4 linked regions of the Homo sapiens genome follow. The protein of the gene in region 1 purifies or fractionates together with the protein of each later gene. This does not show direct contact. Each region holds a gene or a part of one and is shown in the gene's direction. Other genes may lie near its edges.

The links.
Region 2: the proteins of EPN2 (region 1) and SMARCA1 purify together in Homo sapiens (affinity purification with mass spectrometry; one large-scale study listed by BioGRID and IntAct). This does not show direct contact.
Region 3: the proteins of EPN2 (region 1) and MB21D2 fractionate together in Homo sapiens (co-fractionation; one large-scale study listed by BioGRID). This does not show direct contact.
Region 4: the proteins of EPN2 (region 1) and RNF214 fractionate together in Homo sapiens (co-fractionation; one large-scale study listed by BioGRID). This does not show direct contact.

The regions. Positions count from the first base shown.
Region 1 is NC_000017.11:19,331,206-19,334,375, forward strand, and holds part of EPN2 (epsin-2), read left to right. Parts: intron 1-647; coding exon 648-863; intron 864-2,750; coding exon 2,751-3,049; 3' UTR 3,050-3,170. UniProt on the Homo sapiens protein: Plays a role in the formation of clathrin-coated invaginations and endocytosis.
Region 2 is NC_000023.11:129,488,968-129,492,712, reverse strand, and holds part of SMARCA1 (SWI/SNF-related matrix-associated actin-dependent regulator of chromatin subfamily A member 1), read left to right. Parts: intron 1-619; coding exon 620-772; intron 773-2,520; coding exon 2,521-2,653; intron 2,654-3,627; coding exon 3,628-3,745.
Region 3 is NC_000003.12:192,911,188-192,914,932, reverse strand, and holds part of MB21D2 (nucleotidyltransferase MB21D2), read left to right. Parts: intron 1-3,745. UniProt on the Homo sapiens protein: Probable nucleotidyltransferase that catalyzes the formation of cyclic dinucleotide second messenger in response to some unknown stimulus.
Region 4 is NC_000011.10:117,246,071-117,249,815, forward strand, and holds part of RNF214 (RING finger protein 214), read left to right. Parts: intron 1-738; coding exon 739-878; intron 879-3,745.

The DNA.
Region 1 (3,170 bases):
GGTTGATTTCAGGTTTTGCTACTGTAAATGATGCTGTTGTGAAACTCTTTGTGCTTATAACCTTGTTCACATTTTACATTATTTGCTTAGACCAGATTCCTAGAAATGGGGTTACTAAGTGAGAGAATGACTGTTGTTAAGAATTCCTGTACCGTGAAGCATCCCGTCGTGGCAATCACATTCCTACCGGCCTGGCTCAGCACAGCCTGTGTTGCCTCTATGGGCTGAATTTTAAAAGACACAATTTGCTTTCTTTTTACTATCAAGAAGTTCATGTTTATTGTGGAAAATTTAGTAAATGGAAAATGTAAGAAAAAAAAAAAAAAGTAAATTGCCCATGCCTAGCTTCCAACCCAAAATGACATCTTGGTATTCTGGAGGAATGAGCTATACACACTCTTTTATAACCTGCTTTAGTATTTTGATAAAGCTTTCTTTGCTTATCATTAGGTATTCTTCTGTTCCTGCATGCTGGTGTTTCGTTATGTGGACACTTGATTTATCTAACCCAGCCCATGACTGGCTGTGTGTCGTCACGTGGCGCTGTCAGGCAGGCATGTCCCCAGGAGGCCATGTTTTGTGTTAAGTACACAGTCTTAGGCTCTCCCTGCCACACTCACCCTGCCATATGTGTCCTTGTCTTGTAGCCGAATCTGTGACCTCTCTGCCATCCCAAAACAATGGAACTACCAGCCCTGACCCCTTTGAGTCTCAACCCCTGACTGTCGCCTCAAGCAAGCCCAGCAGTGCCCGGAAAACACCTGAGTCCTTCCTGGGCCCCAACGCGGCCCTGGTGAACCTGGACTCACTGGTGACCAGGCCTGCCCCACCAGCCCAGTCCCTCAACCCTTTCCTGGCACCAGGTAGGCTCTCATCCCAGGCTTCATCCATTGCCTGCTGTGCCTGGGAATGGGTGTGCAGCAGGCCTCTTGGGGGCTCTTCCCACTGTGTGACGGGGAAGGGGTGGGACTAGCTGGAATCTCTAGATGATTACGTATGCCCTCGCCAGTGCTGCATGGGGTGGGGTGTGGAAGCCGTTGTCAGTTATGTGGGGAGTGTATGGGTAGGAAATAGCTCCTCTCCTCTCAGTTGAGACTACCAAGCAGAAACTGTCCCTGACTTGGTGCCCCCCCAGTTGTGAGACCCTCGAGGGAATGTCAGTTCTAAGACAGGTGGAGTAGGGTGGGCTGCTGGGGGTGAGGAAGAGCCAGGGTTTGGCGTGTAGCATTCCTCTCTCGGGAAAAATGTAACTTAGCCCTTGGGTACAAGCCTTCCTCCAGGTCCCTTGCTTCCACTCCTGGTGCCAGAGTCTGCCCCCTGCCCTCAGGGCTCAATGTTGGCTGCCGGCCAAGCCCCCAGCTGTTCAATTGGGTATCCAGGGCCATTATGGCCTGGTCCCACCCTCCTCTTCCCTTCCTGTGTGCATGAAACCCTTGTGACATCCAGCCCCTTGGCGCCCCTCAGCCTGTAGAGCCCTTCCTTAAGCCCAGGCTGTTACACACTCAGTTTCCCCTGCCTGGAATGTCCTCCCTCCTCTTCCCTAATGAAAGCATCTTCCTCATCCTTTGACACCTAGCTCAGATGACTCCCTTCTAGGAAGTCCACCCAGCCCCCTTCCTCACGGGGTTTCCCCAAAGCCTTGGGCTTCCCCCAGGGCAGGAATGTGTCACCCTCAGGTGTTCAGCCCCAGGCTGGCCCCACCATGTAGGGATCTGAGGATCTTGGGCCACCGTCCCTGACAGTACCTTGCAGAGGAGAATTACCACTGAACTTACAGAGGCTGAGGTTGGGGACCCTTGGGCAGAGGTGAGGTGTGTGGAGTTACTGGGTCCTGGCCAACCCTGAGGTCCTGAGATGGGTGAGGACATGGCTGCCCCCAGGGGAGGTGGTTCCCTGGGTGGAACTAGATTAGTTTCCAGCCTCCTCAGCCAGCCAGGAGTCTGTGTCTGCCCCAGGAGGCCTTATGCCTCTTCTGCCCAGAGAGCCCTTGAAGGCCCTGCAGGAGCTCCAGTGGTCATCTGTGTCTGTCAGCTCTTGGTGGGCACCTGGCTGGAGGCCTGAGGCAGCTTTGTTGGCTGCACACCAGTCATGGTTCCTGGGGGCTGCAGCCAAGATGGAGGAGGTTTGGGCAACTCTGCTGGACATACAGGGCCATTCTCCAGGCCACACAGGGTAGGGCCAGGCTGCATGGGAGAGTTGGTGCCAGCAGCGCACACACTTTTGCAAAGAAAAGGCTTTCTGGTATGAGGTAAATTCTGGAGACACTGGGAAAGACAAAGCTGCATCAACTTCTTGACTGCAGGATTTCTAGCCTTCGCGGTGTCATATGTGGATCCCTGGGTGCATTGTGGGCACTGCCACATGAGCCACACACTGCCAGTCCCATGTCCCTTTCAGCAAACAAAATGAGGGAGCAGTGGTAGCTGATGGCTGGTGAAGGTGTCCTGGGTGCCAGCACTGCAGAGGAGCCAGGGTGCCCCGAGATGGGTGTGTTCCTGGCATGGCCTTGTTCAGCTTTGTGACGCTGGACAAATCACTTGGCTTCTCACAGCCTCAATCTCCTCATCCTTAAAGTGCAGATTCATGCAGTCAGCAGATATTTGCTAGTGTCTGCCATGGACTCGGCCGGCACTGTCACGGGCTCTGAGGGCACAGCAGGGACCAGAACACCCGCATGCAGTCCCTGACCTGGGAGCTCAGAAAGCCACACCCTGACGGCTCAGCCTCTGCCCCTCCTTCTGTCTCCCCAGGTGCTCCCGCCACCTCGGCCCCTGTTAACCCTTTCCAGGTGAACCAGCCCCAGCCGCTGACACTGAACCAGCTTCGGGGGAGCCCAGTCCTGGGGACCAGCACATCCTTTGGGCCTGGCCCAGGAGTGGAGTCCATGGCTGTGGCCTCGATGACCTCCGCGGCCCCACAGCCAGCTCTGGGGGCCACTGGTTCCTCTCTGACACCACTGGGCCCTGCAATGATGAACATGGTGGGCAGTGTGGGTATACCCCCATCAGCAGCCCAGGCCACTGGCACAACCAACCCTTTCCTTCTCTAGTGCCTGGGCCTGGGACCCACCCAGAGCACCTGTGCTGGAGGATGCCGAGCAGGGACTCTCGTCTGTGGGACGGGATCCAAGAGTTTGGGGATTAGGGGTATTAGGGCTTTTCAGCTCCAGC
Region 2 (3,745 bases), on another chromosome or scaffold:
AAGAATATTCATATTAATTTTAACATTCTTTACTAAATATCCCTGGATTGTCATCCTGATTTTCTTCATTACTTACCTGCTTGTTCCTTGTTACCATACTGATAGAAATCTTCTTACTTTCCCCTTTATCCGTTGCCCTCATTCCCATTTGTAAACCATTTTCTCTGTTGGTTGATCTTCTAAACTAATCATTCATAAGCTAATGGAAATGAAGTTGAGATTTCTGATATTTTACCTCCTAGATATATTTCAGCTCTCACTCAAAACGTTTTCATTATTATTGTTTTTAAATAATGTAAATGAATTATTACTTGCTTAGTTAAATTTGTGTATGTAATTGTTCTAAATTTGTATCTATCGATGTAAGCTTTTAAAGATTAGGAACTTCATTTATATAATATACTTTCTACAGAAATTCACACAGTACAGTATATGTATAGATGCTTACATATTTTTGAAGATGGAAGAATATTATAAAGTATATTTATAAGGAATATTATAAAGTGTGTGAAGATTTTCTATATGTATTTTAAATGTTTTTATTTGTTTCTTAAGGACCCTGATGGTCTAATTTTATTTTTCTCTTTTTCTTCTATCCCTTTATCAATAAAAAATAAAGGAAGCAATAGAGGCTTTTAATGCTCCTAATAGTAGCAAATTCATCTTTATGCTAAGTACCAGGGCTGGAGGTCTCGGAATTAACCTGGCAAGTGCTGATGTGGTTATACTATATGATTCAGACTGGAACCCACAGGTTGATCTACAAGCTATGGTTAGTAATCTTTAATGGTGTCAGAAATTTATCATAGCTCTGAATACTATTGCTATTTACACACATAAAGGTCATTTATGATAAAAAGGTAACAATTTTTGAGAGATTTTATAGAAGTTACAGTAGATTATCCTGGAAAACACAGTTGCTATGCTAATTGCAAAAACAAAAGAAATGAAAGCGAACAACAAACACACCCCAGATCCAACTTATAGCATTTATGTGTTGATTTTGGTTTTTTTCATGAAATAGAAATGTCAGTTTTTTCCCATTCCTACAGATTGAAGAGGACACATAAATTTGTTTTAATGAAAAGGATTAAAAAACAATCTCTTGTTATTATTCTGTTCAACAACTAAATATATTAAAATCCTTAGTACTGAAATTAAGAGAGGTAGGATTTTAACTTTCATAAAAAACAATTTGGGAGAGAAGGCAAAAAGGTAAGAAAGGAATATATTCCAGAAAAACACTTGCTACTTAATAATGATACCATGCAAAAGCTATTCTACACTTAAAAACATTTTTTTTTAGGGAGCAAAGTTTCTCTGACCTTTCATCATGACACTACAGGTAACCCCTTTGATATTTTGGTGTCATTTATTGAACTAGAGCTACAACTTCTCTCAATGTGACTCACATTTTCAGATAAAGAAATATAATTTAGAAGTAAAAAGATGCAAAATAACTTCTTAGGTTTTGAATATATAGCTATGGATAAGTGTCTTTTTGGGAGCAATGAAAAGTCATATGCCAATGAGGTATAACTTAGAAGGCTTTCCTTTTATAATAGAGAATTGAAAGGGATTGACCACTGGGACATTCCAAAATCAATATGCTTTGGCGTAATTATTATTGCATTACGATGGTATTGAACTACCTGTTTGATATGACTAACTAGGAGTAAGCCCCAGTAAGTTACAGTGTTACTGAACTGGAAAATCTAATAGTGATAGCACTTCATTTCCGTAGAAGTCTTAGTGTGCATCCCATCTTTCAGGATTTGCTGGTTCAGGTTTAATGTAAATATGTGCAGGGGATTGCATTCTGTTTGAAAAATGTGCTGTGTTGAAACTTTGTTACTAGGCTCTAGTGTTTTTATATTTAGTACAAGGCCTGTTTTGAACTTACATTTTTTTTTTCTCTACCACCCTCCTCCCTTTACCTATTTGCTCTAGCAGCTTCTGTGTTTTAAAAATACTCTCCCTAGATGGTTTTATACCACTAGAAGTTCGCCACCTGTCACCTGTACCAACTATAAACCATAGGACCAGTCCTAGGCTACTGAATAGTAAGGATAGTAATATCCCATTAATTTTTATAACTCTTTACTGCATATCCCTCAGTAAGCAGAAAGAAGTGCCTGATGATGAAATAAAGCAGACTTTTGCCACCATAGCAACCCTAACTACTTAATAAAATTCCTTGCTAGTTTCGAAGATGTTTATATTTAGTGGCTTAAAGTTACTTAGTAACTCAATCCAGAAACTTTCAGCTCCCTCTTTTATTCATCTTACAGGTGCTTTGCCCTTTGTCCTGGAAGTTTCCCATTAATGGTACAATATAATATTTGCAGATTTCTTTGTTCCCAGTGGTCTTTAGATATTCTCAATATTCATCATGCTCTTTTCCAAAGTGTCAGATCTAGAGAAAAATAACTAATTTTATTTTTAGAATTTTATAGCATATGATGGCTCTAAATTTTATCCAGAATATCCAATATCTTACATTAGAACTCTTTCTACTAGGATCGAGCACATCGTATTGGTCAGAAGAAACCAGTACGTGTATTCCGTCTCATCACTGACAACACTGTTGAAGAGAGGATTGTAGAAAGAGCTGAGATAAAACTGAGACTCGATTCAATTGTTATACAACAAGGTATTTATACATAGAAACTTAATTAGGTGTTTTTTGTAAAACACATGTAGTTTTCTTCAAAGGAGATTACTTTTAATAAAAGTTGACCAAAATTTGAAAACTTAGAGGAAAAATTGAAACATCACTGTGTATCCCATGAGTCTGTACAATTGTTATGTATCACCTAAAAATAAAAGGAAAAAATTTAAAAATGCTAATTGAGGCTGGGTGAGGTAGGTCATGCCTGTAATCCCAGCACTTTGGGAGGCCGAGGCGGGTGGATCACCTGAGATCAGGAGTTTGAGACCAGCCTGGCCAACATGGTGAATCCCTGTCTCTACTAAAAATACAAAAAATTAGCCGGGTGTGGTGGCGTGCACCAGTAGTCCCAGCTACTCAGGAGGCTGAGGCAGGAGAATTGCTTGAACCTGGGAGGTGGAGGTTGCAGTGAGCCGAGATCGCGCCACTGCACTCCGCCTTGGGCGACAGAGCAAGACACTGTCTCAAAAACAAACAAACAAACAAACAAACGAACAAAAAATGCTAATTGAAATCTTCTGAATTGAAACCCTGGCATTTGATATATGGAGTAGTTGAACATCACTAGCTTATTCTTGAATGTCAGTAGCATGCTTTTTGAAGTACCTGAGATTATTTAGCAGATAAAATGGCTACTTTTAAATTTTTGAAAACATATTAGAGGGTACCTTTTCATATAGAGAAGTTTGATCTGAAAACAGAGTTTGAACATGAAAAAAAGTTTCTGTCCTTCTGGGTTTTAACTGAGTTTTACAGAAGGGAATTTATATAGAAATAGAAAGTATGCTAGAAGAAAAACTTGTAGGGTTTATTAAACAAATAACCTTAATGCTCACTAATTTTTTGTTCTTTAAAGCTTTATGTGTGGTTAAATGTGATAATGTCTGATTAGAATGATTATGCCTTCTTTGGAATATGATTGATTGAATATGTACAATTTCAATTTTTATCATTAGGAAGACTCATTGACCAACAGTCTAACAAGCTGGCAAAAGAGGAAATGTTACAAATGATACGGCATGGAGCCACCCATGTTTTTGCTTCTAAAGAGAGTGAGTTGACAGATGAAGACAT
Region 3 (3,745 bases), on another chromosome or scaffold:
TTTTCATTTTGTCTAGTTTGGAGGAATTTTACACTGAAGAGCAAGGAGGTGGTAGACAGCTGTCATAATCAATGACCTGTCAACACCAAGACACTCCACTGTCTTATCAAAGTAGGGTTCTGCACAGGCTGTGGGGTTGATCTGAGCTTGCTGGTGGTCACTGTGGTCTCTGGGGTCTGTCCTGATGCTCTCTGTTTGTACAGAGATTCTGATTTTTTTTTGGAGGCAGGTGTTAGCTGCAATTGTCTAGATTCACTTCTTATTCCTCTGTACCTTGGTCTTTTAGGAGAATGATTGGTGTTATTATCTAGTTAATATTTGAGAGCCCAGACTGTGCGAAAGGCTGGCAGTGCATAATAAACACCATTTATCAAAATTCAGGGAAATTGCCAGAGTTCATTAATGTTTTAATAATATTTGGTATTAGCATAATGTCTCTGCCAGCTCTTTTGTTATCTTCATTCCCTGGTGAGGTTCGATAGAGACTGGTTTGTGTCCCCATTGAACAGATGCAGAAAAGGGGGTATGCAGATGCTGGAGAAGGCAGGAAAGAAACAAGCCGTCACCTAACCTACAGACCAAGTGGTCGGTACCATGGCATGATTTTTACGGTAGTTAATCATTTACTAATCATCTTCTCAGGGCCAGGAACTTCACATAGACTTTTGAGGAGGTATTGCTTTCCCATTACATAGATGAAGATATTGAAATTTAGTGGGGTGAAGAAAGTGGATATCCAGGGTCACAAAGCTAATAGATGGTAGAGATGCTACTGAAACTCAGGTCAGCCTTACTCTAAAACATGTTCCTCTTCTCCTACTTGAGACTATTAAGAATAGATGCATAAAATCCAGAGGAAAGGCTTTGTTTTAAAAAATCACTTCTTTCAGGATTTTGTTTCGATTTTAGCTATAAGTTTTAGCGTAATATAAGTAGATTTCTGGAACAGTCTGAGTTCAAGTATTCTATAATAAGATCTCCTATTTGAATTTTTGATTGAGAAAATCATAGTAATTATAATAAAATGTTAAAATCTATAGTTTCATTCCCAGTCTGCCTCTTGTTGGCTTTGTGGTCTTAGTATTTTCTCTCTCTTTTTTTGAGACAGGATCTTGCTCCGTTGCCCAGCCTGGAGTGCAATAGTATGATCATGGCTCACCGCAGCCTCAAAGTCCTAGGCGTAAGCTATCTTCCTGTCTCAGCCTCCCTAGTGGCTAGGACTAGAGATGTGTACCACCGTGCCCAGCTAATTTTTTATTTTTTAAAATTTTTGTGTAGATGGAGTCTCACTATGTTGCCCAGGCTGGTCTCAAAATCCTGGCCTCAAGTGATCCTTCTGGCTTGGCCTCCCAAAGTGCTGGTATTACAGGCATGAGCCACCATGCCTGGCCAGTTTTTTCATTTATTAAACATGGATAACAGTAAGCATTGTTTTTCAGAACTGTTATGTCAGAATGTGAAATTACTTTGCTAACTAAAAAAGAATATATACGTGAGTTTATTATTTAAATAAATGTTTGTTTATTTATTTATTTGAGACAGGGTCTCGCTCTGTCACCTAGGCTAGAGTGCAGTGGTACAGTCTCAGCTCACTGCAACCTCTACTTCCTGGGCTCCAAGTGATCCTCCCACCCCAGCCTCCCAAGTAGCTAGGAGTGCAGGCGTGTAACACCACGCCTGGCTAGTTTTTTGTATTTTTGGTAGAGACAGGGTTTCGCCATGTTGCCCAGGCTGGTCTCACACCCCTGAGTTCAAGCAATCCTCCTGCTTTGACCTCCCAGAGTGCTGGGATAAAAATATACTTTCTTAGAAGATCCAGTGAACTTAAATTGGAATTATTTCTGCAGCTTGACATCTGAAAGAACTATGCAGTACAATTAGGGTAGCCCAGGAGGATTTTGGCTCATACCATGTGCTGACCATTGTGCTAGCTACTTTGCCTAAGTCCATTAGCTCATGTAATCTTTTTTCCACAACTTTGTAAGCATAAGTATCATGCCTATTTTGGAAGTGAAATAGGTGTTGTTACCCTTTTTAAAGATGAAATGGTGAGGCTCAAAGAAAGAAGTCAAGAACTTAGGCCAAGATCATTCAGAGTTGGAGACTGAATCCAGTTATTCCTGACTCAGAAGCTCATGTTCCTTTTACTGTAGTAGCAATCAGTTTCCATCACTTTTGGGTGAGACATACTATACTCAGTAGCCTGCCTAGTCTGTAGGAGCAAAGATAATTTCTTTTTTTCTTTTTTCTTTTTTTTTTGAGATACAGTTTTGCCCTTGTTGCCCAGGCTGGAGTGCAGTGGCATGATCTTGGCTCACTGCAACCTCTGCCTCCTGGGTTCAAGTGATTCTCCTGCCTCAGCCTCCCGAGTAGCTGGGATTACAGGCGCCCGCTACCACACCTGGCCAATTTTTGTATTTTTAGTAGAGATGGGGTTTCACCATGTTGTTGGCCAAGGCTGGTCTAGAACTCCTGACCTCAGGTGATCCACCCACCTCGGCCTCCCAAAGTGCTGGGATTACAGGCGTAAGCCACCATGCCCCGCCTGAGATAATTTCTTTTTGTCTTCCTGTCTCTGTCCCTCTTTCTCTCCCTCTGTTTTTTTCACGCATTTGACAAATACTTAATGAATGTAATAGTGTTTGCCAATCAGCGTGCAGGGTTCTGAAGATAAAATGGTGAACAAAAACTTTGAGAAATTCATAAGGGCCTTCAGGGACCCCTCCCCTGTTTCCTTTGCCCACCAACTCTAGCAGGATATTTTGCTGGCTGTTTCTCCTTTCAGGCCAATAAGTGCCATGTGGCCATTTCAAAGATGTAAATGCTTGGTGTGGTGCTCCTGGACCTACCATATTTTTAGGCACTTTCTACATCTCCAGAGTGGGTAATTTTGAAGCCCTACCTTTCCAGTGTTTGATTGCTACTTTTCTGTTAATGAATTCCCCCAGCAGGATTTACCATGGAAATTTATGGTGCGTTGGTGTTTTATGGGCCTCCATGTGCTTGGAAAGTTCCCGAGAGTTGTATTCACTATGTGCTGCATCTGTAGAGTGCACAGGATCATCTCGGAAGTTTGTTCTATCTCTGAGAACATTATGTATCCAGGGCAGGGGATCTCTCCAAACATTCATTTTTGTGCTAGTTTGGATTGGTTTCAATTCCCCCTCCATGGTTCTGGGCAGTGGCTGCCCTTCGTCCTTGAGAGAAGAGGCCTAGAACTGTCGACAGTCCTGGGTCTTCCTGTCATTCCTTGTCATGCCACTCATTGGATAATACATTGCTCACAGTTAGGCTGAGCCCCTTTTTAATTCACAGAAATATTAGATTCTAACAATTCAAAATCTCTGGTCCCATTCAGACCTATTGAATCCGAATTCCCTAGAGATCCCCCAACAAGCTGCTCAGCATGTCAACATCCTGTCCTGTGTTAGGCTTGATGTTCTGCATTCTCTGTTCTAGGCACAGTGAGCATGATCCCAGTTGACTTTTGAGACTAGAACCAAGCTGCTGAGCCTAATGAGCAGATAATGTCTGTCTGCTCCTGGAAAGTAATAGTGGAGTTCTTCCACCTGGGACAGAGACAAAAAGGCATAGTGAGTGAGACAAGGGTGTTTACTATGTCACAGGTTTTAATAGGACTTTACTGTATCATTTAATCATCACCATTACACTTTGAGGTTAAAAAAAAAAAACTGTGGTGAACCCTAGAATTAGAAAAATATAGGAATTCATCCAAGTTTACCAG
Region 4 (3,745 bases), on another chromosome or scaffold:
TCCTTCCACCTCAGCCTCTCGAGTATCTGGACTACAGGCATGTGCCACCACACCTGGCTAATTTTTTTTATTTTTTGTGAGACAAGATCTCTGTATGTTGCCTAGGCTGGACTCGAACTCCCGGACACAGTGATCCTCCTGCCTTGGGTTCCCAAAGTACAAGGATTATAGGCATGAGCTACTGTGCCTGGCCTGTTTGACTTCTTATTTAAAAAAAAAAAAAAGTGTGCGTTTGTACATATGTATATCTGTGTGTATATGTGTGTGTGTATATATGTATGTATTTGTTGTTGTTAAAGAGTAAAACAAACAAAACCCATACATAATAAAGTAGAATCACAACAAAATGAAACAAGACAATATTTGTTGGATGTAACAGACCCTCCCTGGTACAAGAACACCTTTCTCAGCATTCTTGACAGGTGTTCATTCAGCCTTTATTTGAACACCAGTAATGAAGAGCTTACTGCTTCACAAGGCAGTATATTTCATTTTTGAACAATTGCGATTGCTAGAAATTATTTTTCCTGTTGAGTTGAAATCTGCATTACTATAACTTTCTCCTTTAGGTCTGAATACTGGCTTTTGGAGCTACTCATCAACCACATTCTTTCAATTCAATTTGAATTCACTAAAGTCAATACGTGAATTTGTGATAGTTGAAAATAACCTTTGCATCAAAAGAACTAACTTATTTTCTTTTTTATTTGTGTGCGACTGTAATTGTGTGGAACTCAGGAGATATTAAAGGCTATTCAGGATGTGACAATAAAGCGGGAAGAAACAAAGAAGAAGATAGAGAAAGAGAAGAAGGAGTTTTTGCAGAAGGAGCAGGATCTGAAAGCTGAAATTGAGAAGCTTTGTGAGAAGGGCAGAAGGTAACTGATGTTAAGAATAAAAACCCTGTGTGTATGTATATATGCATGAGGGGCCAGACCCGTTTGTATTTGTAGTTTCTTTCCCTTCGGTTTAATTTTTATTTGAAAAACAAGTGTACAAGTAAAAACTCTCCAATGACTTTAGCTTTTTCAGTATCAAACATTAGACTTAATAGAAAAAAGTTCAGAGATTTATTAAATACTTTGAAATAATAACAGTTAATTGTTGAGTCCCAAGTGTGGTCAAGAGTTCGATACGGGCTGGACGTAGCGGCTCACACCTATAATCCCAGCGCTTTGGGACACCAAGGTGGGAAGATTGCTTGAGGCCAGGAGTTTGAGACCAGCCTGAGCAACCTAGCAAGACCCCCTCTCTACAAAAAATATTAAAAAAAAATTAGCTGGTTGTGGTGGCACGTGGCTGTAGTCCTAGCTACTTGGGAGGCTGAGGTGGAAGAATCACTTGAGCCCAGGAGTTCCAGGCTGCAGTCAGCTGTGATTACGCCACTGCACTCCAGCTTGGGTGACAGAGCAAGACCTTGTCTCTTAAAAAAAAATTTTTTTTATATGAATCTAACACCGATCTCACTTTATAACCTGATATTTACAAGTTCAGACCATGGGACAGGCACAGTGGCTCACGCCTGTAATCCCAGCACCTTGGGAGGCCGAGGCAGGTGGATCACGAGGTCAGGAGATCGAGACCATCCTGGCCAATATGGTGAAACCCCATCTCTACTAAAATACACAAAATTAGCCAGGCGTGGCGGCGTGCACCTGTAGTCTCAGCTACTCGGGAAGCTGAGGCAGGGGAATCGCTTGAATCCAGGAGGCAGGAGGCGGAGGTTGCAGTGAGCTGAGATCGTGCCACTGGACTTCAGCCTGGCAACAGAGTGAGACCCTGTCTCAAAAAAAAAAAAAAACAAAACAAAAAAAAACAAAGTTCAGACCATGAGCATATTTTGAATGATTACATTTGTGTTATTCAGCATCCAAAGTAAATTTCAAACAGTAACATTGTAAGCTGTTTGTGAAAGAATTATTTAGAGGATTTGTGTCCTTTTCTGGGTACTGCAGAAAAAGCAAAGTGGGCATAGAATTTGGTCAGCTTCTCAATTTTCTAAGTTTCTTTTTTTTCTTTTTTTGAGACGGAGTCTTGCTCTGTTCCCCAGGCTGGAGTGCAGTGGCACGATCTCAGCTCACTGCAAGCTCCACCTCCCGGGTTCACGCCATTCTCCTGCCTCAGCCTCCTGAGTAGCTGGGACTACAGGCGCCCGCCACCATGCCTGGCTAACATTTTTGTATTTTTAGGAGAGACGGGGTTTCACCGTGTTAGCCAGGATGGTCTCGATCTCCTGACCTCATGATCCGCCTGCCTCGGCCTCCCAAAGTGCTGGGATTACAGGCATGAGCCACCGCGCCCAGCCAATTTTCTAAGTTTCTTAAAATGACCTGTTTGGAAATCATAATAGCTGTGAATACTCGGTTGATTTTATTTAAATTCTACCAAAATGTTTTTTGTTTATCAAAAAAATTTTGGCTTTTGCTAATGCGTCAGACTGCTGAGTTAGCAAGCTCATGTGCTGAATCATTTTCTGAGTCTCCAAGATAATAATTGTGAAGCTCAACATGAGGAATTGTGTTTGAGAGAGGGCTTGTAGACCAATCAGTTGTTCTGTTGAGAATCTAGTGATACTGAATGATTAGAAGGTGGGTCAGTTGTCTATAATGATAATTTTCCAGAAATTATGAGGAGTGTACCTGGAATAGAACATTATCCCAGCCACTGTTAGTGATCAAAGCAGTTGCTCCCACCCCATGACATGGTCTCTGCCATTGTCTTCACAATCTGTGTGAGGAAGATGACCATAGGCATGTAGCAACTTAACAGGAGATATTAAAGTGCAGAAACTGGGAAGATGAGTCTATAATGTTATTCTAAGCCCCGCAGAAAATTTCCTTTTGATGTGTGTTCTTTACATTCTTTTTTTTTTTGAGACAGTCTTGCTCTGTTGCCCAGGCTGGAGTGCAGTGGCGCAATCTCGGCTCATGCAAGCTCCACCTCCCGGGTTCAAGTGATTCTTTTGCCTCAGTCACCTGAGTATCTGGGATTACAGGCGAGTGCCATCATGCCCAGATAATTTTTTAAATTTTTTTATAGAGATGAGAATCTCACTCGTTGACCAGGCTAATCTCAAACTTCTGGCTTCAAGCGATCCACCTGCCTTGGCCTCCCAAAGTGCTGGGATTACAGGTGTGAGCTACCGTGCCCAGCCTTTTTTTAATTTTTAATTTTTATTGTTTTTTACCTTCAACAAACTCACTTTTACTCTTTACATTCTTTATGTAACTCTACTACCTTTTCCATCTGATTGAATTGCTACAGATGGTGATTGATACTAATAATTTTGGTGTTTGTGTTCTTGAAGATCCATTTTTTTTCTTTAAATGTATATGTCACGGTGTGAGAATAATGTTTTCTGCCATTCTTTCTGTTAAATGTGGGGTTCAGTTTTCCGGAAGCAGGGGGAATGTCTCTTGTAGGTATCTTTGTTCTAGCAGTGGTGTAGGTTCTGCTTAGCATTCCATCATTCATAGGAACCGGGACACATAGATTTTGGTCATTATATTATTCACCTTGGCCTGCCATAACAGAATACCACTGACTACGTGGCTTAAACAGCAGAATATTTTACAGTTCTTGGAGGCTGGAAATCCGACATAAAGATGCTGGCAGGTTTGGTTTCTGGTGAGAATCTTTTCCTGGTTTGCCGACAGCTGCCTTCTTCTGGTCTCACATGGCTTTTGTGCTATGCATGCACATTCCTGGTGTCTCTTCCTCTTATAAGGACACCAATTCTATTGGA